Regions from separate parts of the Homo sapiens genome. Here region 1 is linked to region 2. Evidence: fine-mapped expression QTL. A gene starts in region 2. The other region holds a variant in brackets. All regions are shown on one strand. Distances are from middle to middle.

Region 1 (15,751 bases), 18 kb after region 2:
TTCTTTTTTTTTTTTTTTTTTCAGATGAGTCTCACTCTGTTGCACAGGCTGGAGTGCAGTGGTGCAATCTCGGCTCGCTGCAACCTCCGTCTCCCGGATTCAAGCGATTCTCCTGCCTCAGCCTCCCGAGTAGCCAGGACTACAGAAACGCACCACCACATCCAGCTAATTCTTGTATTTTTAGTAGAGACGGGGTTTGCCTGTGTTGGCCAGGCTGGTCTCGAACTCCTGACCTCAGGCGATCCACCCACCTCGGCCTCCCACAGTGCTGCGATTACGTGAAGAGAAAGAATGAGAAATGCATCTGAGCCTCACTCCACCAAAACAACACACTTTCCCACCTCTCACTCCACTCCAATGAATGTCTATGAGTTTTCAGACTCCCTGTCAATGGTCTTAGGTAAATGCAGTAGTATCTGCTTTTTAGAATTTATAAGACAAGGGCCATGCTGGGTGCATTGGCTCATGCCTGTAATCCTAGCACTTTAGGAGGCTGAGGCAGGCAGATCACCTAAAGTCAGGGGTTTGAGACCAGCCCAAAATGGCAAAACCACGTCTATATTAAAAATACAAAAATTAGCCGGGCATGGTGGCATAAGCCTGTAATCCCAGCTACTCAGAAGGCTAAGACAGGAGAATCGCTTGAACCCAGGAGGCGGAGGTTGCAGTGAGCCAGGATTGCACCACTGCACTCCAGCCTTGGTGAAAGAGTCAGACTCTGTCTCAAAAAAAAAAAAAAAAAAAAGAAGAAGACAATGGCCAGTGCCTTAAAATGAGCAGAAAATTTTCTGTCAGGTATCCTTGGATCCCCTTCCTCTCCTGCAGCATATTGGGCTTACTTTTGCTCATTCCCTCATGCCTTAGCTTCTTCATCTGTCAAATGGAGAGAAAATACTCTTTCAGTCCTTTGTGTAGGAAAAAGTGATAATGGCTCCAGAAGTTTCCTGTCAACTCGGAAGCACTATATAAACAAATCAGACTGCCACCAGTAATCAAAAAAGGAAGGTCTAATACCTCAGACTTATAACTTGTATAGTAAATTTCTAGTTTAAGTTGTTCAACTAAAAAAGTAGAGGACATTTGGTTAAGAGAAAATGAGATTTCAAACACATTATGGTCAAGTTTAAATGGTATTGTTTGTTTCATTTTGCTAATGGAAGAAGGTCTAGTATTTTTCAAGAGTCAGTCATTGGGAACCAGCCCTTAATTGCAGAGTGTTATGGAAAGATCCATGGTGTCTAGGGTCTGTTGGGGAATTTGAGGAATTCTACAGCAAGAGCATTGTGCTCCAAGAGTACACAGCAGAGCTGGGGCTATCGCAATCCCATAAAACAGATAAAATCGGACTCAGAACACAGCTGTATTAGTCCATTCTCACGCTGCTATAAGGACATACCTGAGACTAGGTAATTTATAAAGGAAGAGGTTTAAGTGACTCACAGTTCTGCAGGGCTGGGGAAGCCTCAGGAAACTTACAATCATGGCAGTAGGAGAAGGAAACACATCCTTCTTCACATAGTGGCAGCAAGGAGAAGTATGAGTGAAGTGGGGGAAAAGCCCCTAAAAAAAAACATCAGATCTTGTAAGAATCACTATCATGAGAACAGCATGGGGGTAACTGCCCCCATGATTCAATTACCTCCAACCAGGTCCCTCCCATGACACAATATGTGGAGATTATGGGAACTATAGTTCATGATGAGATTTGGGTGGGGACACAGCGAAACCATTAACAGCTATCAACAGCTTTGTTAGCATCCAGAGAAGGCTGAAAGAGGAAGAAGAGAAAGATGTGGGGCCAGCACAGAAGACTTCCTGGAGTGACTGTGGCCCCACCTGGGTGCACAGGGGTCACAGCAGTCAGAGAGCATAGCAGAGAGAAGGCACTCCTGTGTGAGACCTCCAGGTGAAACTGGGGTGGGGGTGGAAAGAGTATTTATAAGAGATGAATAAACAGGTTAACAAGGAATGAAATGTATTGGGCTTTGAAAGTCAAATGCCATAGCAGCTTGAATTTGATCATTTCATCTGTAGGGAAAATGGGGAGTAGGGGACATTGGAAGGTGGAAAGGCCTAAAAAGCTCACCTTGAAAATCCATCAAGACATTCTTTAAATTTAAATGTAAAACTGTTACTATACCAATACTTATGGCTCCTTTTCCGAGAAAGCCCTCCCCGTGTCTCTTCCCTGCTAATTCCTGGCCATCTTTCTGGCCTTAACAAGGTGCCGTTTTCTCCACCAGCCCCACCCAAACATCTCTCCTTCTCACAGAGGTGGGTCACCCAGAGTGGTCCAAACTTCCCTAATCAAAACAGCCTTTACACATCCTGTGGCTTACAATTCCTTCCTACCCCTGTGACCCTCCTCTTCTTTCCCTATTTAACATTATGAAAACTCTCATCAGTTTGCATTCAATGAATCCTCACCTACTCTGTGCACCTTGTCCCACAAGCCTCCCCTGATTGTAAACCCTCCACAGAGGTCTCGGATGACACCTTGTGAGCCACCAGGCTGTGGGGAGATTCCTCTCTTCCCTCATCAATGTCTTTACCCAGTGAGGTTAAGAAAGCCAGGGCAGGCTGAACTAGGAATTCCCTTGGTTCTAACAGAAAATATGGTCACTTTAAATGACCTAATTGTCCTGTCTAAACACTTCTCTCCTGGGATAATTGAAAATGCTCTTTTAGTCTAGCTCACAATTCCTCACCTCCAGGCCCCCAGGGTTCCAGTAGGCGGGTGGTGGGAGTCCATTAGTCACTCACCTTCTGCCCTTTCTGGTCTCAGCTGGGCTCTTATCACCTGTACCTGGGCCTCCTGGTCTCAAGAGGTCCATGACTGCCTCTCTGTAAGCTCCAGCAAAAGATGGTGAGGTTCAAGCAATTGCCTTTCTTATTCTAATGAGCCTTGCTTCTAACAGAACATGAGAAGGGTTAGTGTGAGTACTCCAGAAGGAAAGAAATTAAAGGAGAGAAACAATAAATTAATGTAATAGAGTGGGCAGAAAAAAATGCTTAGATATGAGATATTCCTGGTTTAACTACATGACTTTCACATGTGATATGGTCTGTCACACCTTGAGCCTCCTTATCTGTAGAATGAAGATATCAGTTCACACTCTGCTGTGAGACTAGAATTTGTATGTGATGCACCTGGCATAGTGCCTCAGACACAGGCCCTAAAATTGGTACCTAGTCCAATAGTGGTTGTCATTATACCAAAGAGTACCAATGACTTTAAAAGCTGAGGTTTCTAGCCTTATCAGGACCCACATCTAGAGAGGGTAGAATTGTATTTTCCATACCTATTAGAAGTGGAGTCCTCCAATGTTTACCTCTTGGGCATTTTATAGAATTGAATGGTTTGAGGGGGCACTGAGACCCACCCCCTCTTCAGGTTACTCATACACTGTCTTGAAAATAAAGAAATCCATCTAAAAAAGGATAGATGAGTCCTGCTTACAATGGCCACTCTTAGAAAATATTAAGCCACTTCCCTGGATAATAAAGGAACAACAGAGAAGTGAACACATTCATGGTAGATTCTCATCCTAAGAGAGTAGCACTAAACCCTCTCCCTCCTGTTGTCAATGCCTCTTCAATTTAAAGAATGAACTGCACCTCATAAGAATTGAATTTGCTTATTGATTAATCCATATATATGCAGCACTTGATACCATAAGCCATCATGCTGGAATACAATGTGCTCTGAACTACAGGTGTCTAGTCATTTTAAGTATAAAAATTAGGTAATTATAGCCAGAAGTATTCATTAAAATTTGAAAGTAGATAAATAAAAGAGAACATTGATATCTAGTCATTAAACTTCTACAAATAAAATGTGAAATGAGAAAAAAATGAAACAAAACAAAATCCTTCCTATTATCTTCCCCTCAAATCCCTTTTTTTTTCCTTATGAATCAGATGCGGCATCTCCAGGGAATAGTTATTTCTTCCCTCTATGCATGAAGCAGAGCAGGTTGCGGGGGGGGCGGTGTCCACCCGGGAATGGGGGAGGTCCCTAAAGCAGAAGGTGGCTCCATCATCTGCAATTCCCATCAGAAACCTACCTCAAAGGCTATAGGTCAGACATTGTTTATGGGGTAGGGAGAAGGGCAGGGCTGGGGGGAGCCCACAGTGTGTGATTCTCAAAATGTTGAAAAGGCCAGAGCACAAATACATCTCCACAATTACACTTTGACTTTCTATAAGTGCTGTTTGGAGTCTGAGGAAGTCAGAGAGAGAGGGTGAGTGCTGAGTCTGTGCTCGCAAATTCTTCAGTGAAATGGGAAAAGACAAGTTAATGGTTAGTTGTCTCCATGTGGGTGGGTGCGGGTGGAAGGGCAGAGCTGGGAGATGGTAGGATTTCAACATCAGTTGAAAAAAACAGGCCACGCAGGCTCCCCCCAGACAAGCTGATTTTCCCCCAGTGAATTCACCAGGGAAAAGGGATTTGGAGGCAAGATCTCATTACTAATTTTGTTAAAAACCCACCTGCGAACACAGTGAAATGAATAGTCCCTGGGACTTGGGGGTTTTGGCTGTGTGCTCAGGTGTAGACAGACCTTAACCTCATCAGCTGCTTGACTTCGGGGCTCTTGATAAAATATAAGGTGTTCTTCAATATAAGGGGAATATGGATGCAGCTAGAAACCCAGCCCTGAGCTTGTGGATGGTCACCCCAGGCCAGCTCACAGTACCGATGTGAATCATCTGTGAGCAAATGATAATGAATGACAAAAAAGGCTTGTATCCAGAGGCAAACAACCTCAGGAGGTTATTTTCACTACCTTGCCCATATTTATATGTGGGGTCATGCATCTGTTAGGACTTTCTGTCCGTGGCATTTATTATCTCACGTTATATCTGAACATTTCCGAGGTTTCTGGCTACAGAGGAGGCTGATCAAGAGGCTTAATCATGTCATCAAGGACCTGGTTCTTCTAAGTCTG[T/C]TCTTTCTGTATCCCTTGGTGTTGGCCCTGTCCTCAGGCTCCATGTCATGCCTTCCTCAAAATCCCCAGCTCTCCTTTCACTGCAGCAAAATGATTGCCATAGCTCTGTTCCTCACATCTTTCTATCACTCCACCCATAGACAAGGAGGGTCTACTTTTGTGGCTGTGTCTGGTGGCCAGTCTCTAAGGTGATGCCCAGTGATCCTTGCTTCTTGGCATTCACACCCTTGTGTAATCTCTTCCTTTTGAGTGTGGGACAGGCTTGGTGGCTTAATGATTGAGATGTCAGGTCCCAGATTAGGTGATGGTAGATGGTGACATGCTTTTGTTTTTCCATCCCTTCTCTGACTGAGTGAGCAAGCTGCCCTGTGGAGGCCTCAGGTGACCAGACACTGAGAACAGTCTCTACCCAATAACAAGCAAGGAACTGAAACCTTCAGTCTAACAGCTCAGGAAGAACCAAGCCCTCCAACAGCCCCATGAGTGGGCCTGGAAGCAGACCCTTTCCTGGCCAAGCCTTGGGATAGCTGCAGGTTTAGCTGATACCTTGATGGTAGCCTGGGGATAACCTGGATGCAGAAGTCCCAGCTAAGCAACCTGGAATTGCTGACCCACAAAACCTCGGGGATAAAACATGCTTGTTGTTTTAGTCCAAAAAGTCTTGGGGTAGTTGTTATGCAGCAAGATATCATAAGCACACTCCCATAGAAAAGGAAAGGTGTTTCTTTTTTCAAGTTCCAAGGTGTTTCTTTTTCCAAGGACCGCATCCTTGATTCTTCTTGGCTCTGAATGCTGTATGTACGTCTCTAAACCAAAGGTTGCATTCAGAGATAATGACTTTGAGATCTAGAGACAGGAGGGGCCTGGATTTGTGATAGAAGGAGCTGGTCTTCTGTCTTAATGTTCCCTTACTTCCTAGCTGTGTGCTGGGATGAGTCACTGAGCCTCGCAAAAACTCCTCTTGCTCATCTATGCAGTAGCAGGTGAAATTATGTCCCCCAAAGAAACCAGGCCAAGTCCTGATCTCCACGCTTGTGAATGTGACTTTATTTGGAAATAGGGTCTTTGCAGAAGTAATTGCGGTCATCTGGATTTAGGATGGGACCCAAAGCCCAACAACTGGTGTCCTTGTAAGAGAGAGGAAAGGAAGATTGGACATACGCAGACATAGAAGAGACGACAAACAAGAAGGCCATGTGAGGATGGAGGCAGAAATGGGAGTGTGGCAGCCGCAAGCCAAGGAATACCAAGGACTGCCGGCAGACACCCAAAGCTAGGAGGGAGGCATGGGTGGGATTCTCCTTCACAGCCCCCAAAGGAAGTAACCCTGCTGCCGCTTTGATTTCAGAGTTCTGCCTTCATACTATGACAGAGCAGGTTTCTATTGTTTTAAGCCACCGTGCTTTGGTACTTTGTTATAGCAGCCTTAGGAAGCTGTTAATAACACATATGGGTAACAATAATCGGTGCTGCTGTGAGATCATGGATGCACAAGTCAGAAGTCTATATATAATAATTGTAGTGACCTGATGGCCAGGGCACACCTATTCTATCCCTCTCCACAATGGGATTCAGTGTGCCAAGAAATGACCTCTTTGGCAGAGGCTGGAAGAGTTCAGATGTGATGAATAGAGGTGGATAGCAAGTTTGAAAGCAGTTCAAATAGAAAGCATTGGATTTGGGGCCCAATGACCTGGGCTCACTTTCTTCTGACATTAGGCAAAATTGCTTCATGGCAATCAGCCTCAGTTTTGTCAATGCATGTAATAATAAACCAAACTTAAAACATTGTTACGGGGGGGCAGAAAGAAGAGTGAGAGGGTAGGAGAGAGAAAGAAGGGAGAGAGAGAGAGACAACGAGAGAATGTGCAGTTTTCTAGCACTTTGTAAATGTCCAGTAAATGCTTCTGTATTCACTGAGCTATACTTTTGGTCTGTCTTTATTGACTGTCATACCGTCTGGCTCAAGGCTGCCCCATCATTCCTGGACACTGTTGATGAACTATATTCACAGACTAGACATTAAAAAGTGCACTTGATCATGTTACTCCCCACTGACTGGGCTTGGAAGAGGAGTAAGGGAAGGAGGCAAAGATGAGGGTTTAAGTCCACAGCTTCTTGGTGGCAGTGACCAATAAATGTGACCATCGCATGCTTGTGCTTAAGTTATTTTAAACATTCCCCATTGTCATAAGGACAAAATTCAGGTTTCTGTGATCTGGTCCACTTGCTTACTGGCCTCATCCCCCTTATTCCTCTCTTGTATTTTAGTTTCTGCAACACAGCCTGACCTGTCCTGATTGAATCAGGTTCTGCATTTTCAATTATTATGCCTTGGCTTCTATTATTGCCACCGACTGGAATGTCCTTTCTCACTGACCACCTTTGTACTCTGCACACCGGTCTTCCCTCTCTCTTTCATGAGCTCTTTTTCTATCCCTTCCTCCTTGCCACCAAACCCCTAAGAACCACTAATGTTTTTTTTTACTTTCTTGATATTTTAGCCTTTTCCAGAATGTCTTATGATTAGAATCAGAAAGCATATAGATTTTTAACCACCTTTTACTTAATAATATGCATGTAAGTCTCCTCCATATCAATATTATTGCTGAATAATATTCCATGGTACAGATGTACCACAGTTTGTTCATTCCTTTACCTATTGAAGAACATCTTGATTGCTTCTAAATTTTAGCAATTATCAATAAAACCTTCCATGAATATTTGTGTGCAACTTTCTATGTGGACATGAGTTTTCAACTGCCTGCCTTTTACAATTAAGCTCAAGTGCCACTTCCTCCAGGAAGCATTGCCTGATTCCCTGGGGTCTGCAACATTGATCTCCCTCCTGTTTCCAGTACTCCAATGCACCTGTTCCACCATAGCACTTAGGGGACTGTACTACACTAACTGTTCCCTGTGTGTCACCCCAGTGAGACTGTGGGCTGTGGAATGAGAGTCCATGCATCTTGGCTTCCACAATACCTATATTAAGTGGTCAAACATATTTGTTCACCTAAGCTTTGACTGGGTTTTCTTTCCTTGAGCCCGGTCCATCATTTTTTACCCAGTGCCTTTAAAGAGGCAATTCCTGGAGTTAGGTATCAAATAAGAAGCAAGGTCCAAGTGGTCCTTTGTGGGTCATGACTTCTGGATCACAATTTAAGTGTGATATTAACATTTGGTGAAAAAAGGCAGGACTATGAACCCTTAATGGGTTCAGAAAGGGGGAAGTGGGGAGAATAGCAGTAGTCGTCTTCTGGGAATACTCACTGGTGTTAGTTACCCAGAGAGCAAGTCAGCCCACTAGGGTTCTGGGAAGGAACCAGGAGCAGCAGAGAAGATAAAGTTACAAAGAACGAATCAAACATAAAAACATAAAAAAAAATCAGAAAGGTTTTGTACAGATGTTAGAAATATAACACAAATTTGGCTCTGAGTTTCCTGGCAGCCCAAGCGCAGAAGGAAACATGATGAATTCCAATGCATGATACTCGCCAGATTCAAAAGGGAAAATGTCCTCAAGAAGCCTTTCTGTCCCCTCTATTGAGCCTGGAGATTTATTTTTCCCCCCATGGGTGTTCATTAAAGGAACACTACGGCATGACATGGAATCCTTATCCTAACAACAACAGGCCATAGAACACTATTCTTTTCTTCTATTACTCCATAGTGTGGGAAGATGGGATGGTAAGAACAAAGTCTGTCTCTGGAAGCACGGGCGCTGTCTCTGAAGACAAATTGATCGTAACACAAGCAGACCCGGTGGAACGACCTCCATGCTGAACCCTCAGCTCCCCCTGCATTTGGACCATGGCCTGATGGAAGGTGCGAGAAACCCTGTGACCACGTTACAGCACAGGGGCAGCTTGGCCAGGCCACCCCTTGGGCCTAATTTTTCTCCCTGGCCAAAGGGGTCAGACTATTCCAGTGCTGTCTGCTCCCTGGCCTCCAGAGTAATCAAACACACATGTTTGGCGCTCCACTAATCAGGGAATGAAATAAAGCTAGATGTTTCCATATGTTGATTCAATTTACAAGCAAAAGTAAGTGTCAGGTAGGGGGCACAACAGTAAGGGGTGAGCAGTGAAGAAATGATTCCACAATGACGTTTCGTAAGGAGCAAAAAGATGAGGAAGAAAAGGGGAGACACATCATTGAAGGCCAGGCTCTGTGACAATTTATATTTGCCTATATATCTGTATCTCTCTCTGTCTTATCTAATGAAATACCAACAACAACCTGAGAACAGTTCTGTCTTCCGTCACAGATAAAGAGACTGATCTCAGAGTGGTACAGATCTACAACCACGTGAAGAATTGGATTTATATTCATCTGACTCCAGAAAGTTCCTGAGATTCCTCTGCTTCATCATCTTTCCCATGCCCTTTAAAACACGTTATCAAATAGCAACAGGTGGTGCAATAACTAGACAAATGATTCTCAGCCTTTTTCTTTGCCATTAGCACTCCCGGAAGGAGACGTGTTGGACACTTTTCCTTGTCACCACCCCATGAACCTTCCATACCACAGGTATACTGTGTATTCGGTTATGTATCATCTGTACATCTGTTTCTAAAACACAGAAACAGTAAGAGCCCCCCATCCAAGAATCCATTTTAATCCTCTTGGGTGTGATGTCACCCCCCAAAAATGCATATGCTCTGGAGTCAGTCACAAACACATTACGAATGCATGATCACTTAAGAATGTTACCAAAGTTTATAAATTTGAGATGATAATTCTATGTTATTTAGTTCATTTTAGAGATAAGTAAGAACCAGAGATTCCAGAGAGGTAGACCAAGCTGACAGAGCAAGGAAAGGCAGAGCCAGACATGCAGCTGAAGCATCTGAATTCCCACTCTAGTGCTCCAGCTTAACCTGGATGATCAGTAAATGGTTGCTTTTCAATGTGCTCTCAACACTTCCCACACTGCCTCCTTCATTAATAAAGGAATGGTATTTTGGGAGAAACCAGAATCTGCCCTGGGGCAATAGAAAGGCAGCAAAGCAACCTGCATTCAAGTCTTTGGGGGATTTTTTGGAAAGCAGAGTGTATTAGTCTGCTATTGCTGCTGTAACAAATTACCATAAATTTAGTGGCTTAAAACAACACACATTTGTTGTCTTAAAGTTCTGGAGGTCAGAGCCCAAAATGGGTCTCATGGAGCTCAAATCAAGATGTCAGAAGGGCTGTGTTCCTTTGGAAGGCCCTTGGGGAGAATCTGTTCCATGCCTTCTCCAGTTCCTGGAAGTCACCTGCTTGCTTTGGCTGTGGGGCACTTCCAGCAACTGCATCACTCTAACCTCTGCAACCATAGCACGTCTCCCTTTTCTGACTCTCACCCTCTTCTTTCTTTCCCTTATAAGGACAATTGTAGTACAGGATAATCTCCCCATTTCAAAATCCTTTACTTAATCACATCTGCAAAGTCCGTCTTGGCCTATAAGGTGACATACTTGCAGATTCCAGAAATTAGAATTTGGACGTCTTTGGGTGGCTGTTATTATGCCTGCCACACAGACCAATGCATACACAATGTGACCAATCCATCATGATTTGTCTGAGACTATATTGGCTTTAAAGCTGAAAGTTCTGCATCCCAGGAATCGCCTCAGTCCCAGGCAATTCAGGACAATTCGTCGTCACCCTATGTGCACCTCCTATGTGCTCCTTCAACTTAGAGAGTTGGTGTTTTCTCTCCTCTTCAAAGGACTAACTCCTTTTCACCTAAAGAGTACACAGAGGCTGGGTGTAGTGGTTTAGGCCTGTACTCTGTGCATTTGGGACACTGAGGCAGGAGGTTCACTTGAGCCCAGGAGTTTGAGACCATTCACGGCAACATAGTGAGATCCTTTCTCTACAAATTTTTTAAAAAATTAGTTGGGCATGGTGGCACATGCCTGTAGTCCCAGATACTTGGCAGGCTAAGGAGGAAGGATCCCCTGAGCCCGGGATTCAAGGCTGCAGTGAGCTATGATAGTGCCACTGTACTGCAGCTGAGGCAATAAAACGAGGCCCTGTCTCTAAAAATAAAAAAAAAAAAAAAAAAGAAAAAAAGGCTGCACAGAATAGACTGATGGACTGAAGGCTCTGCCCTTATCAAACATTTACTAAGTAATAATTATAAGTTTGCCTCCTACACTGGGTGACTTCTCAAATTCCAGGTTGAGGTCATATTCATTTCTGCTGTCATAGGGTATTGTTGGGTCCCTGGTGCTTATATGTGATTTGGGAAATGCTTGCCGATGTGAATTGAAGAGAAGGATAGACAAATGCTTGGTTGGGAGGATGGCAGGAGATGGTAATGGGTAGATGGGTGGATGGATGAAAATATGAATGGATGGCTAAGAACGATCAGTAAGCTGGGAGAGCATCTCAGATCCCAACAGCATCTAGGCACAAAGCAATTTATATTTAATTTGCATTATTGTATGTCACCCCAGATGGGGAGAAAGACAAGGAAATGAAAAGAGAGAAGAGAAGGAAGGAAGGAAAAGAGAAGGGATGGGAAGAAATGGAAGAGAAGAGAAAAGAAGGCAAAAGAGAAGAAAGACAAAAGACAACCAATGAGATAAACAGAGAAAAATAAAGACTAGAAAAGGAAGAGGGGAAAGGAGAGGAGAGGAAAGGAAGGAAAACTCATGGGTGGTCCCCAGCTTAGACCACATGCCCACAACCAGCTCTGGATCCCAGAGGTGGGACTATGCTGGAATTCCAGAGGAAGAGGCATGCAAGCCAAGCACAGGCCATTCCATCAGTTCTTCTAAATTATTTCTCCAGTCCAGGCCCGCATCAGGGAGAGCATGTCTGTCGTGCATTTTAATCTCAGAGTTCTGGGCTGGTATTTGTCAGCCCCAGAGGAAAAACCACTTTTTTTTTTTTTTTTTTTTTTGCCCTTCTCACATGCTGGGCAGGCGTGTTACATTTTTTTTGGCTGTGAAGGCACTAAGTGTTTCTTGGCAGCATGTACGTCTGGAACTCAGCCTCTTCCCAAGTCAGAACGACCAGAGATTCAAGATCAATGGGTGTAGCTTTCAGGTGGGTTCCCTCTCCAGTGCCATCTTGGGGAAAGGCAGGAGGACTTTTGATTTTCCACTTTTCCAGCTGAGACAGCTCTCTCTCCCGAATGCGCATACGTGAATACCTCGTCTATTTCCATGAGCTTTCTCTTTTCATTATCGCTTCACCACCAATGGAGAAAGATCAGTAGAATATAATGTTGAAGACTCAGAGTCCTTGGAACTCTTTGGCATTGACAAATCGTGTTACAACAACCTCCTTTGCGTCTTAAACAGCCTGGCATTCTCACATTCAGCTTGGCAGCCTCATCAATATTCTGGAGAGATCTGAGCTCAAGGCCATCAAATGTGACACTTTGGTTGTTTAGTCGGGAGTGAATCTACTGACTGTGGCCTTAGTGACACCAAGGCTGGCATGTTGTGTTTTCTCTCAATTCATGGGCTTTTCTGATGTGTCTCTCAAATCCAGCCCTGGTGAGGGGAAGGAAAATTACCCAGACCCAGCTCTGTTCTGTAGGAGCTGCATGATTTTGAGAGAGTCTCTTCCCCTTTCTGAGCCTCAGTTTCTCCACTGGCATGGTAAGGTGCAGTTTGGACCAGGTAGTTTCTAAAGTCTGTTACATTCCGGCATGCCCAACTTCGTTTAGGATTGCTCTGAATGAATGAGTGTCCAGCCATGGTCAGGCCAATAGATAGGGTCAGAAAATACAGTTTGCCACATATGCAGTCAAGCGTTGATATAAATTGTCTGCCTGAATCCTGGCTTTGGTTGTTTGTGGATCAAACCATGCCCCCTGTGTGCACAGTAATGATTGGTTATGGCAACCATATGTCCTGGGTTTCCTCGGACAGCCTTGATTTCAAAAATTCTGTCCCATCGTCAAACCTTGTGTCAGATCATGTATCTCAATTTTTGATTCAGAAAGTATGGTCACCATATGGCAAATGCATCTCCACCACTGTGACATAGAGGGCTTGTCTTCATCCTCCTGCAAATCTCTGTCTTATTCTCCCAGGCAGACAAGGATGCATCTCCTCTCTGTGCCCACTCCTGTCACCACAAAACCTTCAATCTATCACTTCCATGTCTGTGTCCTGTGCTGGACACCAGGCTCCCTAAGGGCAGGAAGAACATTTGGTTCATCTTCATATTCTTAGCACCAGCTCTGAATAAACTAAAAGCAATGAGTCTGTCACATTATACAGTAGAAATCTTCCTGAAAAGATGGGGGCGTACATTTTTAAATTATAATCTCTTCTAAATAGAACCAGGAAACTTAGTACTCAAGGAAGAAATCATACATTTATTTTTTTCCTTCCTTTCCTTTCCTTTTCTTTTCTTTCTTTTCTCCAAATAATTATTTCAGATCTTCTAAAAGATCTGGACTTGCATATGCCATTTGCTGGGGGGGGTAAATCTTGGAAGCAGATTCTCCTGGCTGTATAGGATTCAGTCCACTCATGGCCAACAAACTGAGACATCAGAAGAGAGAATTCACCATTTTAAATCTGCAGTCAGCTGAGACTCAGTCCTGCAATTATATAATTTCTTGTGAATTTGTTTCATGAACTAAAGAAGGCAAAGGCTTTTTCAGGGTTACAAGGGGGATAAAGTCCATCTTACGGCCCTTGGAGGAAAATCTTAGTCACCTTTCTTATAATTCCTTTTTCTTGGCTGCTTTTAGTGCTAGCCCCTTTCTTTGAGTACTTTATCCTTCCTGAACTCTCTAGACATACGTGTCTCCAAGCTCCTCTCTAACCCAGATTTCACTCTGGCAGCCATGCTAAACTTTGATCCAATGTTGTCCATAACTTCTACTTATTTCCAGAGTAATAATAATACTTCACAGCATACCACTCAAGAGCTCTTATGGTTTGACCACCATCTATTATTTTACACCTTAGATCCTCAAAAGGCCCATACACCAACACCTTTTATCCCAGAAAAATCAAGAAATCCAGTCATTTTTACTATTGTCAATCCCAGAAAATAGCCCAACTCACTCTCATAGCTCTGAGTCTTTGCACAAACTCTTTCTTTTCTCTGGGACGAGTTCCTGCCTTCAGGTACCTTGGCACACCCTAGCTGTCTTTCAAAATCTTTTTTGATTATCCCTTTTATTGTGAAGGCTTCTCTCATTCAGTAAATACAGATGATGATGATGATAGTAATAACAACAATAATAGTGATGATAATGACAAAACTCACATGTGTTCAGCAGGAATTATGTGCTGGGCTGGGAGCTAAGTGCTTTTCAGACTTTACCTGATCTTACATTTTATAGCAGAAAAGAAAATTCAAACCCAGAAATATTTGCATAGCCAAACTAAGTCCAAGGACACATAGTTAAAATAGGGCAGACCTGAGGTTGGGACCCATTTTCTGTCTGACCTCAAAGTCAGAGTTCATAACTACTACATCCCACTTAGGCTCAGTCAGGTTCTAGTTTGGATCACTTCATACCCACAGAAGGTGCCTCTTGCTTGGTCATCCTCATGTTGACCAGCCAGCCTCAAGGATCTCGAGGACAGAGGCTCTGCCCTATAAATCTATTCTTCATTAGTCCTTCCTATGGTCCCTGACACACGGTAAACATGCAACAGAGTTGGCTAAAGAAATGGGCACAAAACCACTCTTTCATCTTGCTTCATTTTTGCCGAGAGGAATATCTCAAGGGGAATATATAGACACCTTCCACTAGATCTGTACATATATTCAAGCTCACACTTAAAAAGGGCCACCATAATCAGCAAGCAGCAAATATACCCTAGGCTGCTTCTAGCTGGAGCATAAACAGAACCCACCGAGGCTCTTCACTGGCACAGCAACTCTGTGCTCCCTAGAGCCTAAAGCTGATGAAGAAGTCTGCAAACCTTACCTTTCCAAAGAGCCAATGCCTAGAGGATGACAATATTAAGTCTGAATTCAACGAAAACTAACAAAGAAACAAACAACCCCAAAAGTAAACACAAAAGAAATAAAAACACTTTGGGAGGCCTAGGCAGGCAAATTGCCTGAGCTCAGGAGTTCGCGACCAGCCTGGGCAACACAGTGAAACCTCATCTCTACTAAAATACAAAAAATTAGCTGAGCATGGCAGCACGTGCCTGTAGTCCCAGCTATTTGGGAGGCAGAGGCAGGAGAATTGCTTGAACCCGGGAGGCAGAGGTTGCAGTGAGCCGAGATCACACCACTGCACTCCAGCCTGGGCAACAGAGCGAGACTCTGTCTCAAAAAAAAGAAGAAAGAAAGAAGGAAAGAAAGAAAGAAAGAAAAAGAAAGGAAGGAAGGAAGGAAGAAAGAAAGAAAAAGAAAGAAAGAAAGAAAGAAAGAAAGAAAGAAAGAAAGAAAGAAAGAAAGGAAGGAAGGAAGGAAGGAAGGAAGGAAGGAAGGAAGGAAGGAAGGAAGAAAGAAAGAAAAAAAGAAAGAAAGAAAGAAAGAAAGAAGGAAAGAAAGAAAGAAGAAAGAAAGAAAGGAGGGCGGGAGGGAGGGAAGGCAGGCAGGCAGGCAGACAAACAAAAGCCCAAGTCATGACGGATAGAAGCAGTTTCACTCTTTGACTTGATCTAAGGGACAGTTTCACTGATACAGAATCTTGTCTGGTCCTTTGCTTGAGATTGGCAGTCGAAAGTTCCCTAAGAGGCCAAACCAAGTGTACATGAAGCCTCATGCAGTGAGGGAATGGACAAAACACACACATCAATCAACAACTGGCAAAGTGGATCTGCCTTCAATCACTCCACATCGGCAAAGAAAATCCAATCATTTTGACCATC
Region 2 (15,751 bases):
ATTTTCTACTGTAAAGGACAGTAAATGATAAAAACATGATTGATTAATTGAGAGACTAATTGATTCTTATCTTTTCTACTTCTAAGAGGAAGCCAATATAGCTGGTAGAAATACATATGCAACACGTATAAAATTAAAACAGCAAGAAAATGGCTAAATATATCCCCTTGTGTATGTTTATGTTTATGCATCCAAGCAGAAAACTCTCTAGCAGTTTGTTATCAAATGAATAGTTCAGCCCACACATATTTATTAACTGCTTATTATGTTTAAAGCACAGCTCCATTCCCTAAATGCATACAAGGAAGGTGGAAGACACTCTCTGTCCTCAGGAAGCTTACCGCACTGATAGAAAGGTCAGATTTAATTGCCAAAAAAATTAGGGATCCACCAGATGGTCATATGTCTTGAAGGTGACTATTTGACTGGAGGCCAATGGTCTGGGATCCAGAGTACAGCCACCAGCATAGAGCACTGTGACTTTGGGCAAGCCATTCCCTCCTCCAAGCCTCAGTTTCAGCACATATGAAACGGTGGTAATGATGATGGTTTGAGTAGATGGTGTCTAATACATTAACATGAGCAACATAGAGTATTAACTACATAAGCTATGAAAAATTTGATAAGCTAGAACAGTGAGCACTGTTCTCTACACAAGGACCATGGAGATGAGTGAGCTCTAGTCAGGGACCTCAAGGAGAAAATGTCTCCTAAGGGGAATAGTGACACAGATGGACAATTACAGTTCCAAGGAGCAAATGCACCAACAAATAAACAAACAGAGGGGACTGTGGGCCCTCAGAGAAGAGACAACTGCAGAAGTGGCTAGGAGAGCTTCTGAATAAGGCAGCATCTGATATCTAACCCAAAGTTTAAAATAAGGGACACATAGACGAATAAACTTTTTTTATTTTTTTGGCAGAGGGTAATGATTTGAACAAATGCAAAGCAAGGAACCAACAATAACAAAACACAAAGGTAAAGAGATAAAATACAGCATAGTCTATGTGAGGAGGTGTTCATTCATTCCTTCATTCCTTCACTCATTCATTGGAGATCACAGTGAGCCAGGCCTGGTCCCAGGCTCTGGGGGCACTGTGAAGTTCCTGATCTCTGTGAGCTCATATCCTAGTAAAGAAGACAGCCAATAAACAAATGGCATAATTTCAAGTACAAATAACTGTTGAGGAGAAAACTAAAGTATGTGATGGGGCAGAGTGTGGTCTGCTGTTTTAGATAAATGGCCAGAAATAAATGGCCTCTTCAGAGAGGTGAATTGTTATATATGAATTCTAACTCCAAAATAACAATATACAGCAAACACCAGTTGCTGAAAGACAGAGGGAGAAGAAAGGAGTGGTCAGTGGAGAAGATCACAAAGGGTGTTGGTCCTGGAGTTGACTGGATGCCCATTAGTGATGTTCCATGGTTGGTTTTGAATGTTGACAGCAGGGCTGGAGTAGCTGCCTGGAAGATGGAGGAAGGATTGTGTTTCAATAGTCCAGGAAGGCCATGCGGATCTCTGAACAGGAAAGGGGGAGGATGATGGGCAACAAGACAGACATACACTGTTCCTTAGATGGCGAATCATCCCCTTGAGGTGGGATAATAGTAGAACTGGTCGTCAAGGGCAGACTCACAAAAAAAGTTAAAAGCAAGACCCAGGGGTATGAGATAGGCAGTGAGCCTGGCAAAATAGCTTGTGTCAGACAGAGCTTGAGCTAAGTATACATGAATTATAGAATCAAACCTGATGCTCCAAAGACAGTAATTGTCCCAAGGACATGATCATTTTTGTTTCTTTGACAGGATGTAGTAGGAGTTTTTGCACAATCTTTTGGGGTCAGCTAACCTTGGCAAATCGTGCGGTCACCACCTGCTCTGGCTCACAAAGGCCAAAAACGGCAGAGGTGATGCTGGAAATGTTGATAGTCACCAGACATCTTCAAGTACGGGTGAAGCCCTTCAGGGTTTTGCCACCTAAGCTTCTCATTTCCTAGGAATTCAATTCAAAAGCATTTACTGAGCACCTACTGAATACCACTGGCTATGCCTCAGATATTTGAATGACTAAGATGGTGGTCTATGGATAGCCATTGGATTCATTAATGGATTGATTGCCCAGTCAATTTTTCTATAATATACTTTTATACATATCATCCACTTGTCTGCTTTACAAACTGTGTAGGTTTTCCATCAGTTAGAAACACAGATTACCATTTATCTAGGTGCCCACAAGAAAGCATAATCTCAGATCTTCTACTTTCCAACAAAACCCATCTTTAGAGAAATGATAAGACTGCGGGAGGCACCTGTTATTTATCCACTCATATAAGTTGCTGTGCTGAGTTAAGTTCTTTTATCGAGTTAGATCCCTGGAAAGATATAGACTTCAACCATTTTTTGTAGCCCCTTGACAAACCACCTACTTGGAAGTAATGTTTTGTTACATCTTTGAGTTTTATTGAGAGTCATTATGGAAAACAATCCTATGAAATTAGGTATGCATTTATTCTAAAAGCAAGTGTTTTGGACTTTATCCATGATGCTAACTAGATCTTCCAGAGGATTTGTTTTGTGTCCTCTTTCTTAAGAACAAAACAAAAATAAAAGCAAACATTTGCAATTGACCATATTTTCCCTTTGCTTTGGCTGCCAGGGAGCTCAAGAGCAAATTGGGGTGCAGATAGAGTAAGTACAAAAAACCTGGTGGTTAGCTGATGCTACATGCTCTCCTGTTTATGTATTGAACTTCTATTCCTGGCCATTAGCTGTTTAAATGTATTGTATGTGAGTTCCTTAAACAGTTTCCCAAAAGGAAGTCCAAGGAGATGAACTCTGTTTAAAATGAAAATAAATAAAGTCAGTATTTTCTTGTCTTCTTTGCAATTTCTGCACAGGTGGTAATCCAATCTCTTGAGCTAGAGTTTAAATTCTGGAGAGGAGCAGCAAGACTTTATATTTTATTCCTTCTCCCTGCATTTTCTAGGATAATGCTGAGCATGTAGAAGGAACAAAAAGAACGTGGTATTACTAATTGCTGTTCATTTAACAGACGTCTTGATGGCAAGATGCTTTCGATGTATTTCCAGTGGGTATTTCCCATCCTTGACCCTCATTCCTCAGATGGAAACAAGACCCCCATAGAATCGATCTTCCTTCCCCTCTGTTTGGGCAAAAAGAATGAGGCTTTTGGGATGCAGGCATCTTGCTTGTTTCAATGTTGGTTCCTGTGGCTGGTATAGTGCCTGGCGCAGAGTAGGAACTCAATAAATGTTGTTTGTTAAATGCTTTATTCTGGCTAAAGGTGCACACAATAGATAACATTACCGTCTTCTACTAATGTTAGAGAGGATCTATTTTTGATCCTGAAGTTCATTTAGGGCCTTTCCCTTGTTATTTTTTTTTTCTTTCCCCCTGCTTTTCTCTTGTTTTATCCCTTGGCCTAGAAGGGATAAGACAAATTAATTTCAGTCATTATTGTATATATGACTGTCTTCCTTGGATACCCAGTCACTGCCCATGTCTACAGCTTGCTTGTGCTTTTAGATGGTGTCCAGAGGGCAGGACTGCAGCAAAGTTTCCGGCTGCTATAGCACCAGTGGGGGAAATGAAAATAGCTTGCTCTGGAAATGACAGCGAGTTTCTTGGCAAATCCCTTTGGTACAGTTTTAAAGTCTGCACTAAGAAGACCTAGACACCCTAGAATTTTGTTGCTCGGCATTCATTTTGCCCCAACTTCAAGACCAGCCTGGAGAAAAAAAAATGGGATAGTGATGTGTCACCAAGATGGCTGAGCCCTCCCACCCCCTGCCAGAAAACAAGCTCTCTGTTAGATATTGATAGCTAGACCATCGCTATGAGGCCTGCAACGTTCCTGTGAGAACTATGTCATTTTCATAGGTGAAAAGTTCAGAGAAATTAGTGACTTGCCCAAGATTTTATGCATGTTTTTGGAAGAGCTGACATTAAAACCCCCATATCTGCTTAATTTCAAATTACACGATCTTCTCTGCACACCATAAAATGGGCACAGATTTTCTCCTGTGGCCTCCCAGCCCCTTGAACTTCTGCAGAACACCCACCCTTCCTTATACCATTGCTCTTACTTGACACGTCCTACCTTGGTGGTAGGAAAGCAGATAAACAGTAGATTCACTTATCTATACTCTATCTGTCTATACCTCTTTACAACCCCACCATTCCATCTTCATCACTGGAGTGATACTAACACAGGGGGTGTCCGTTCTGCTACAACATTCAACATTTGGCCATATCTTCATTGGGCATTTCCCATCCTTGGCTTTCATTTCCACAGATGAGGAATGAACCAGGATTGCAAGGAATAGAGTTATACAAAATATTACATTTGCCCATAAGGGTTTTATTACCTGTTAGGTTGAACTGTATGGAATTGCCAACTCTTGATTATTTCTGACAGTTCCATAAGATTCAAGCTAATAGTAAAGCAAGAAGAGAGTAATCATTTAGTGGGTGCACACTGTAAATTATAGGCCCTGTGTTGGCTGATTTCCACGCATCCAGTAGTTTACTGTTCACGGCAGCACCACAAGCAACCCCACTAAAGACCTGAGATTCAGGAGATCATGTCGTTGCCCAGGGCCACATTTTTGGGAAGCATCAGAGATATTATTAAACTCCTAGCTCCTTCACTCTGAAACCTGTATCCACATCACAATTTCAGCAGTGCTAGGACCCTGTCTTTAGAATTTTGGGGGTTCTGAGTGGAATTCATTGGTGCTGATATCGCAGGCCCTAGGAAGTTGGTGTTTGCTGGTATCGTTGTAGATACTGACAATCCAGGGTGATAGTCAAGCTATTTTAAAGCTATTAAGTTTAGGGCACTACCAAGCAAAACTGACACTTGACCAGTCAGAATGGCTGCTGGCTGTCAACCATTAGAGATGCCTTAAAGGGAATTAGCATTCTGCTGATAAAGAAGGTATGGTGGTTGCTGCTATTCTAGTTTTCTGTATGCTGTTGTTTGCAGGGTACTCAATAGTTTGGATTATTTGTCAGCTAAAACTCATTCCCCTCTTCCCCAATACTACCGTGCAGAATTTCCTTCCCTACTTCCTGAGGTTGGGCTTGGCCATGTGGCTTCACCTAACCACTGGAGTGCCTGTGGACATGATGCAATCAGAGACCTTAGATGTGCTTGCTCTTCTCTGCATTTAGGCTATAACATGTCTGAGGTAGCTGTCACCCCTTAAGCTGGGATCCCAGAACAAATACACATTGAGTGGATGAGAACCCAATCTATAGCTTAAAACCATGCTCAGGAGACATGCAGTCTGCAGCAGAGCTGATCAGCTGAGACAAGTCTAGCTCAACAGAACCACAGTAAACCTAGAAACCAATGAGCGTGAGAAGAAATACTTAGTCTTTCAAGCATCTGAGCTGGGATGATTTGTTATACAGCATTATTGTTGCAATTGCTGACTCAGGCAGGATTGTGAAGCTCAGGGTATGGCCTTTGAAACTGCATAATTCCAATCTTTGGCTCCCTCAAGTTTAGTCTCCCCAAGTGTAATGCAGCCACATTTATGTTTTCTTGCAAGACTTTCGCTTTAACCAAGAGTTTCAAACCTGATTGTCATGACCATGCTAAATGCATAATGGTATCAACAACTAGTGCAAAATGCCCTAAACGTAAAGTGATATGAATATTTATACACAGTTCTCTGGAAGTGCGCATGTTTGTTTCCTCTGGACCCCATGGAAGATATTATTACAGACGGTCACACTCCTTATGAGCTTCATTGACTCATGTCAGCATTGGTGATAAACAGATGCAAACGGCAGTATAGAGAACATTTGGGATGCAAAGCTCTAAGCCAGTGTTTCAGGCAACACTCTCTGGGTGGTTTTAACAAATAATAACATCAAATAATAAATAATGGTATCAACTACCACTATGGCTGTTGCATTTTTTGAGTGCCTCCCTTGGCCGGGAACTGTGTATATATTACTCTAACCTATTACTCACAATCACACTCTAGGGAAAGCATTTTTAACCCCTGTTTTTCAAAAGTGGAAAATAAGACTCAGAGTGGTTAATAGATTTATACAAGGCCACACAGCTAGTGGGTGGCGGAGTGAGCAGAATTTCCATCTGACTCCATCTCCTTCCAAAAGTACAAAATGCACAAAAGTACGAAAATGCTTTTATTATGGATTGAAAATTTCTATCCCTCCAAATATATATCCTGAGGCTCTAAACCCCAGTATGGCCATATTTGGAAATGGGGGCTCGAAGGAAGTAAGACTTACTGAGGTCATAAAAGTAGAGTCCTGATATGATAGAATGAGTGTCTTTATAAGAGACACCAGAATGCTATTTCCCCAGGCACACACACCAAGGGAGGGCCATGTGGCTGTCTACAAGACAAGAGGTGAGCCCTCAGCAGAAACCAGGCCAGCCAGAAATGATCTTGGACTTGTCAGCCTCCAGAACACTGAGAAAATACATTTCTGGGATTTAAGTCACCCAGTCTGTGGTATTTTGTTATAGCAGCTCAAGCAGACTAATACATGTCAGTCCTGAGTTAATAATATTTCCCAGGAAGTCTCAGAGTACTATTAGGGAATGGCCCTTAAATACATGAAGTGCATGTATTAATTCCCAGCCTACCTCCTTCACCCTACATAAAGTGCAGAAAGGGTCAGGGTGTCACAGGGCCCGTTTCCTTCAATGCGTCTGTGGGAAGGACGTGTAGGTGCAGCCCACGATAGCTCAGAGAATGAGACCGGCTTCAGCTTGACCCTTTTTGCTCCAGGAAAGCATGATGTGGATCATATCTTACTTTACTCTCATAGAAATTTGCTGCTTCCTCATGTATAAATAACTAATCATGAGCAGCAGTGTGCTCCCTGTCAGAGCCTGATCAGGACCATAGAGGCAAGTGGGACTCAGCCTGGGTCTTCATGGCTGTGGGAGCCATTACTGCTCTCTGTATTCCAAGTGGAACAGTCCTGGTGTAAGGGTCTTGTTTCAGTGTCTGTGAGCATGAATGGGTGTGCGTGTGTGCACACGTGCATAAGAAGCTTGTATCCTTTCTTCTTCTAGTGAAAGGAAATCCCCTGTACCTGGGGATTGGGGGAGATAGTGAGGTGTTGGGGAGCAAGAGAGACTACAGGAAAAGATGAGGTGCTGAGGCCCACCAACCTGTTTGTCCTCACCCTTTCCATCTGCTGAAAGGTGCCTATTGGGCGTAGAATTGTCTCCAGCCCACTTCATTGGACCAGGTCATCCCAGTTAGCCTGACTGTCCTGTTTGCAGGTCAAGTATAGAGGGAATTTTGCCACAGTAAAACATGCTCTATTTTCAAGTCATATGTGAAGAAAAAATAAATGAAGGAAGGATGAGGAAAAGACCAAATGCTGCCAAGTGTCCACTACAAGCTCTGGTTTTCTGCGGGGGCCACTGAAAGGTGTACAAATTGTTCACCATAAGCCAAGGACACAAACATGTGTGTGCGTGTGTGTGTATGTATGTGTGTTTGATGCCTTAGCACAGCTCGTGTTTGATGCTTGTGATGGTTCTATTTATAAACTTTGTGCTCTCAGATGGGACAACCAGAGGCACTTCTTTCCTGCATTTCAAGTGTTTCATTTCCTTTTTAACATGTCTTTTAAATTAAGGGCATGCACACCAATGCATGGGCTCACTCTCATCTTACGGCAAGTTGATCAGACTAGGGTTAGTTGTCTGAGAAACATGGGTGGCCTTTGTCACAAACAAGAGGAGAAGCAGTTCAGGGAAGAAGAAGACTAAGGACTAGCACTGTTGTTTTGGTGGAGTTGTTTGTTAGCTGACTGTCTACAAGGCACATGTTCTATCGAATATTCAGTGTTGGGTGCTGACTGTGTTACGAGCCTTGTACATAGGATTTAAACCCCAGAGCCACTCTGTGAGGCCAGAATTGCTTTGGGATCTTTCAGATGAGGGAACCAACGTGAAGGCTTTAAATCCTATGTCCAAAGCCACACAGCGAAACCAGAGTGAAATCCGGAGCATTTGAATCAAGAGTTGAATCTTCTTTCCTCCCCGGAGGGAGAATCGCCCAGGGGCTGAGTGCAAGGGGAAAGGCTGGTTCTGAGGGGAAGAAGCTGAGCATGTTGCGGCACAGGACTTAGAAAAATTTAGAAGCATCTGCAATTGTTTTCCAGGGGAAGATACCCAAAAACAATCCAGAGAAGGAAATAAAACGAGAAGAATAGTAAGGCAACATGGAGTATAAAAGTTGCTGCATTTAGGGCGAAGGAGAGAACCTCTCTGCTCCGTGGCGATATTAAAGCTATCCCCAAGAACGGGAGGTGGGAGTGGCCTGAGGGATGACTCCTCCAGCACTGCTGCCTGCCAGCTCCGGGCTGCACAGGGCTGAGCCGGCGCCAAGAATGCCCTCTTCTGGTGATATTCTCGAAGCCCAGGAAGATAGCAAGGCAGCCGAGACCTGTGTTTTCCAGATCCTGGGTAGATTCCCTTGTCAGATGTGGTTCTACTTAAGCAAATATCACTACCTTCTCTTTTTCCTCCTCAGCCCTCAAACTAGTGATAGGGAAATTATTTCAATAAGGTAAGCTGTACCTTAGTAGAGTTTGCTTCCTTTTTTTTTTTTTTAACCCCGAATAATACTCTCTATGTCATCTGTATATTTATGATAGCTCAAAGACATGGGTGTGTGGATCTAATTAAAAATGTGAAAGGGTTTAGCAGCCTGCTGCTTCCCTGCAACTCTCTGGTTGCCAAATCTTGGCAGCCGTGTTGAACTTGAGCCAAGCGTTTAGTCCTCAGCTGAACTGCTGCCAGCCTGCGCACGGCATTGTGGGGCGAGAGCCGGAGGGGCTGCACTGCACCGAGCTTGCACAGGGCGAGGCGGGGGCAGGACCTGGGACCCAGCCACCCCGGAGGAAACCGGAGAGGAAACCAGCTTGGTCTTGCTCTCTGCCTCGTCCCAATCCCCGGCTCTTACCAAATGCAGGTAGGACCAGCTAGGCCAATTTGGTGACCGGGTAGGGCTTCAAGCTACTAGGTGGGAAATGGTCCCTACAGTTTTGCTTTCATTTAGTCGAAATCGGGCCTTTTCAGAGGAGAAACAGTTCTCCACTCTCTTGCAGTAGTTTGGGCCTGAGTTTCAACAGTCGGATGGGGCATTTCTATTGAGTTCTCTGCTGTCAGTCTGAGCTTTTTTTGATAGCTTGGCAATTGTTCTGTGTCTTCTCTCTGAAGCAGCTGAGTCCAGCACAGGGTTTCTCAAACCCTGTTGTGCACACATGTCACTTGGGAAATCTTGTGAAAATGCAGGTTTCTGAGTCTCCCCGGGGAAAGGGGAGAATTCATGTTGCCAAGATCAGAACTGACTAGAACTGCTTACGTTCCACATTATGACTCCAGACTGGAACTTTTGTGAATTCAAGGATGTTAGGCTCTGGAAAAGTACATCTTGGTGATTTGCTGTCAGAGGGAAAAACAATTCAAAGAACTCAGCATTCTCCACAATATGTTGACAAAAATAAGGGGAAAAAAAAAACATCAAAGGCATGGGTCACTTTTTATTTTTTTTTGAAATGTACCAGCTATAAGCAAATTAAAGAGGAAGAAAGGGTCGTATTCTTTGTATACAGAACACCCTCCTGCAGAGTGAAAATTCAACCCTAAAAAGATCTTCTAATATACTTGAGGGGCTGAGAGAGAGGATGAGGGGGGACTTTGCCTTTTAACTTTATATCTTGTGTATTGTTGATTTTTCATGATGATGCATTTCTTTCGTAATTAAAAGAAGAGGCAGCAGCTGCAAGACGGCCCAGGAGCCTTCTTGGCAGTGACCTTCCCCAGGGCAGGCCACCAGGGTGGGGCAAGTATGGACTTTGAAACCACTTTGTCCTGGAGTGGAAGCAGGCTCTGGCATTAAGCTTGGGGAATTTGGCTAACATTGCTGGGCCTTTGCAATTTCATCTGTGCAATGGAGAAATTGGGCCTTCATTGAGGCACAGCTGTGGGTGCCGCAGACATGTTTGTGCGGGGCTCATACCCAGGGGTCCTTAACAGGCGTTTTAAAAATTCAGAGTCTCTCTCCGATGGGGTTAGGACACTATTCCAGATAGAATTTCACCCCGGCAGACTGCTTCTGAGCACAGATATGTTCCAAAACCTCCGGATAGGAGCTAATCACTTTAGAAGTCACAAAGCCTCTGTTCATGATGTTAGAGGAGCTCCCCAAAAACGAGGCCTTGGGGAATAGCAGTGAATTTTCTCTTTCTTTTCAAATGGCAAATTTATACATATGAAAAGTCTAAATGACATGGCAAATAAATCACAAGTAGTCATAATTTAGCCGGCCACTTTTATTATGAAACAATCAAAAGCATGCAGTCGGGACGATGGAGGGAGATGCAGGCTGTGTGGCCCCTGTGCAATTAGGGGGCTGATACTTCCTTCATATCCTAAGTTGGGATGGCATGTCGCTTGCTTTGTGGTTTGGAATAATGCAGAACTGGCTGTTTCTATCACAGAAAGAGGGAGAGGGTGTGTGCCGCCAAGAATCAGGATATTTCCAGGAAAATTTCACTCCAAGAGGCTTTCTTGAATCTCATTCCTAACATGTGGGCAGATGATTGTCTAAACCACTGAGGGATGATGCTGGAGGTAAACATCTAATTAATTAAAGAAAATCTCCTTCTGCACCCCAACTCCGAAAATGCCCCGCAGTTGAGAAACACTGACACACACTCACCCACACTCACCCACACACTCACCCACACTCACACACACACTCACCCACACTCACACACACGCGCCCACACTCACACACACACTCACACATACACTCACACATACTCACACATACACTCACACACTCACCCACACTCACACACACACCCACACTCACCTACACTCACACACACTCTTACACATGTATTTGTAAAAAAAAACTCCCTGGTGACTGAGTCCTTCGGTCCACCTGCGTTTGTTAATTCCAGGTTACAAACACCTTGATCTCCATCACCCTTCTTCCAAGAATGTGTGACCACAACCCCTTCGCTCTTCCAAGCAACGTTTGCTCCAACTTAATATTCCGGTGCTTTCGGGAACAACATTTTAAAATAAACCATTTTGGCACCTTGTCAAAGTCTTGTCTAAATTCCTTCATGACAACCACTCTCAGTGAGATTTTTAAAACCAAAGGGAGTTGGGGGCAGGGAAAAGAGGAGTTCCCCGTTTAGAGTCCTAATTTTAAACAGTATCAAATAAGAATGTATTTATTTCTCCCGCCCCCTCTGTAGTTCCCTCCTGTTCCCACAGGGCATCCTCAGCCCACCTCTATCCTTCAGTCCATATCTTTATTGTCCCCTCCATGGGGTCTGGTCATCTGGGTCAGTGGGAAAGGGTCACTGGCCATTGGACAAAGAAAGGCTGGGCAGGGATGGGGCCTCGGGCAGGTGTTGAAATGTAGTTCCTGGTGTTTGGTAGTAATCACTACAAAACAATCCTGTCTGCTCCATTCCTATCAACAACCTGCTCTCCTTGGTCTGTTGCTAAGAGACCAGCCTGTTGTTTACAAGATCCTTGGTGGCGTAGACTTCCATAATTTATAATTTATTATCTTAGTGTCAAAACTTGTGTTGGTTTTTATTTTATTTCACCATAGATCCAATTATAGTTAGATACAACAAAGGTCATGCATCTGCCGGTGGCACAGTGACTGCACCAATAGTATCCCTCACCACCCCTAAGTTTAGGTGCTGCAGAAGAAAATGCTATTATTAACTGAAGATGAATATCATTTTTTGTCCACTAACTTCATGCATTATATGAGTGTTCAGGTCAATGGATTCCCTCAAGATTTGCTCACTACTGAAAACATGTTTCTGTCCAACCAAGAAGGAAATGAATTGAAATGATTTCAATTATCACAAGAAAGGAATTGAGTTTTCTTGCTGTACAGTTCAACACGTATTGACTCAACTCACCAATCCTCTCCCCGCAAAGTTCAGGGCCATAGACATTTATCCAGCACTAGACATTACTCTGGAACCACCGTAGGGTTTTGTGGATCCACAAAACCACCTTGTGAGGATATTCTCTACTTAGAATAATTCAATGAATTCAGAAAGGAAGTGATGGCACAGAAGAAAGGGTCATTGAAGTAAAACAGCTCAGTCTCAACATATCAGCTAAGAGAAGAAGAGAAACAGAAAAGTGTTAAGATCATTGCCAACATGTATTGTATCAGGCACAAGGCTAAGTGTTTAATCTGGAATAACTTATTAAAAGGTACTGACAGATCTATGAGGAAAATTCTAGTATTAGTCTCATTTTTACAGACAACAAAATCAGAGCTTTCTACCTTAAGTAAGGCACTCAACAATGCCTAGCTATTAAGTGACAGGATGGAACTCAGGCTGAGAGACTCTAGGGCCATTTTTTATTCTCATAGAAATTTTTAAAATATGTATCAGCCTGGGCTTTGGAGTTTTTTTGTCTGTTTGAGAAGAGTCCCACATACATTTGATGAAACAGGGCAATGAGCATAGATTCCAAAACCTTCCACATTATCCTCTACAGAGTCTTCATCATCTCGTAGAAAACACAGAGCATGAGAAATTTCTAGGAAGGGCATTTTATTTTCCCCGTCTGAGAGCCTGGAAAATTCTAATGCCGTTTTACTGGGAATTAAGCTTGTTGTTTTCCAGAAAGCAATTATGGCAATATTTCATACCAGCATTTTGCATCACTTAATTCCTGCCTGCTCCCTGGTGGGTCGTGGCCAGGACAGAATACTGTGCACAGATCTCCTGAACCCTCTCTGGTTGGGGTTGGCAGACTCATTTTTAGTACAGTGATGGAAAGAGATGAATAAACAAGCTAGGAACTATGGACCATCAAAGAAGCAGTCATGACATTGACGATGACTGAACCACTTCTCAGGCCTGTCTATTTGCTTTTCCTCCCCCAAACAGGACATTGTTCTCATTCAGAAGTGCAAACCCTTAGACTGGAACCCACGGGCAGACCCCAGTGAATAAAGGAGTGGAGTGCACATCCCTCAGTTTATTTTCTGAGGCCATTTCTCTGAGACTAGAACCTTCCTGAGGGTGCAGATGGGGTCCTCTTCATCTTGGTAGCTGTGCACATCCATTTAAGATTCAGAATCAGTAGTTTGGGGTTCAAGTTCTCATCTACCACTTAGTAGCCTCGTGAACTAAGGCAGGTTTTAAACTCTTACGTTCCTAGTTACGACATTTGCAAAAATGGTGATGATAATACTGTCTTCTTCACAAGGAAGAGAGGATTAAAATGAACAACAAATGCAACGTGAAATTGGAGATGGAACTAGATAAAAGTGATTAACATCATTACTCAAATGCCAGGACCAGTAAAATGCCTGACAAACAATAGCCTCTCATTCAGCAGCATGTGTAGCTATGAGATCGTAGTCAGTCTATGTGTGCCAACACTATGAAGCATTGGGATCCAGAGTTGGAAGACAGACCATTTCTGCCAATTGTTCACAGCACATGGAGGAGAGGAATGTGTAAACAGTTACCCAGAAATATACATACACTTCTATGGAGACCAAGATTGAGACGTGACCTGTAACGCATTAACTTTTAACTCTTATGCCTCATTTTCTTCATCTGAGAAATGATTCAGTCATCATTAAGTCATGACAGCTTCTTTGATGGTCCATGGTTTCTAGCTCATTTATTCATCTGTTTCCATCACAGCAGTGAAAAGGAGGCTGCCAACCCCAAGCAGGGAGGATTCGGGAGATCCATGTATGGTATTCTGTCCTGGTCATGACCCTGCAAGGGACATAACTGCCTTGTCACCTGGACAATTGAGAGAAGAATATCACATGCCATGTTTCACTCAGGAAGCACTCAGTGCCTATGGGGGATGGGAAGTGAAGAATGTCTGGGGACGCTGTCCCAACTGATCCTTTTTCACTGGCTTTTAATGGGGGTTTCTAGAAAGAGAAGCACTTATTCATTGATAAAAATAAAACATAATTAGACACAGCCTCCTCTGCCCCTCACCTGATGGAGTTTTCAGCAATATCAAGAAGAACCACCATACTGATAATGCAAATCTTGATTCCCTCTGCTCCATTACACTCCCTTTTAGTCTCACTTTTGGTCCATAGCAATTCAGCAAGCTAAGGAGTCAGGAAGTAGTAAGGTCAGCCAACTGTTTCACCAGGGTGATGCCAGATAATACCAGACAGTGTGATCAATGGATAAAGGGAATGTGAATATAAAGAAGAAAAAAGCCCCTTGGCAACCAGAATGAGTTGGGCTAGAAATTGAACTCAGCAACTGTTAAAATCTGACCCACGGCAAGGCAAGCTTCCCAAAGGTGACTTCACAGTGTCGGCATTAGTGTTGATTATATCACGTGGGTTAAGGTCTTAGAACAGAGGAGATGTTCGGCAGAAGGCAGCTGCCCTCCCTACCAAAGACTCTGAAAGACATGATGCTGTCAGAGGTTGTGCCATGGTCTATGATCATGGTCTCTGATTCAACTCCAGAAAGTCAAATCGAATCCATCGCCAAGATTTGGTTAACCCTTCATCCCCTGTCAAATTCCTAATATCTAGCCATTGCCTCTACCCACTGCTTCTGGTTTTGTTTTTGTTTTTTTATGGAAATAATAGGCAACAATGATCAGGACTAGTTTCATTTTAATTCAACTATCCCTTGCTGGAGTCTAAAACTGTCCTCCTCTTATCTTCCTGGAAAAACAGAATTGTCCTCCCTGTTGCCCAAGACAAGCCCCAGAATACCCACCCCCTGAATCCCCTGCATTAATATCTAAAGCATACCCAGTCTCTTTCCTAAATATGTCTCCTCTCCACACAGTTCTATAGTCTCTAGGGTTATCACTACTAAAGATACCTTTCTGAACTAGAATGAAACATGCTCCTTATCTTCTTGTAAAGCTCTAAGGTCCCCACATTTGATAAGACAAGACTCAGGCTTCTTAGCACAGACTTCCACTCCATTCCAAATCCCCATGTGCCCATATCCTCCCAGGCACCCCTCCACCACAAACCCATTGAACCTGTGAAATGGAATTTCTTCTTGTTCTTTAAACACATCATGTTGGGCCATGACATGGACTTCACATATTCAGGTTCTCATGCTTGGCATGACTTCTCCTTTCCCAGAAAATTCCTTTTCAGCCTTCAAGACATAACCCTAGTGTTTCTTTTTCTAAATCCTCCTGGCTTCTCTGGGCAGTTAGGTCAGGTATGTTTCTCTTATTCATCTCTGTATCAAAAAAGCTGAACCCATAATAGAGTCTTAGTACTTGTGCCCTGACCTATCCCATTATCTTGAAGAATATTCCTGGGTCCTGCCTGGGACTTCCTTAATAGCCCCTAGAGCTGGGTTTCTTTTTTGCCTCTTTCAGTGTTCTTCTTATTCTCCTTTCCAGGATTGTCTTTCTCTCCTAGCCATTAGATGTTGATGTTCCTCAAGGTTTGCCATAGGCCATTTAACATATCATAAATAATTTTTATATTATCTCATTTACATTATCTCCTGGGATCCCTCTTCTTCCCAGACTGCATTAACCACTCATGGTGATGACTCCGGAGCTTCATTCCCAGACCTGATTCTCTATAGACTCCAGACCTTTGCGTTCATATATGTGATGACTGTCTTTAGACTTGGCCATATCACAGAGCCTTCAAACTAATATCTTTGGTTGGGCGTGGTGACT

What was found. PIP is the estimated chance that this variant, and not a neighbour inherited with it, causes the effect.
Region 1: its variant is fine-mapped to the expression of LINC01550 in blood mononuclear cells (TOPMed, PIP 0.97).

The regions. Positions count from the first base shown.
Region 1 is chr14:97,953,289-97,969,039 of GRCh38, reverse strand. All of the region lies in intron 2 of LINC01550 (long intergenic non-protein coding RNA 1550), which reads left to right. Among named protein-coding and RNA genes, the nearest start is that of LINC01550, 17 kb to the left of the region's middle. The variant T/C (reference allele first, on the strand shown) is at 4,950.
Region 2 is chr14:97,971,231-97,986,981 of GRCh38, reverse strand. It overlaps LINC01550 (long intergenic non-protein coding RNA 1550), which reads left to right and starts at 8,858. Exons shown (of 3, transcript NR_015430.2): 1 at 8,858-9,005. RefSeq lists an enhancer at 8,359-8,858.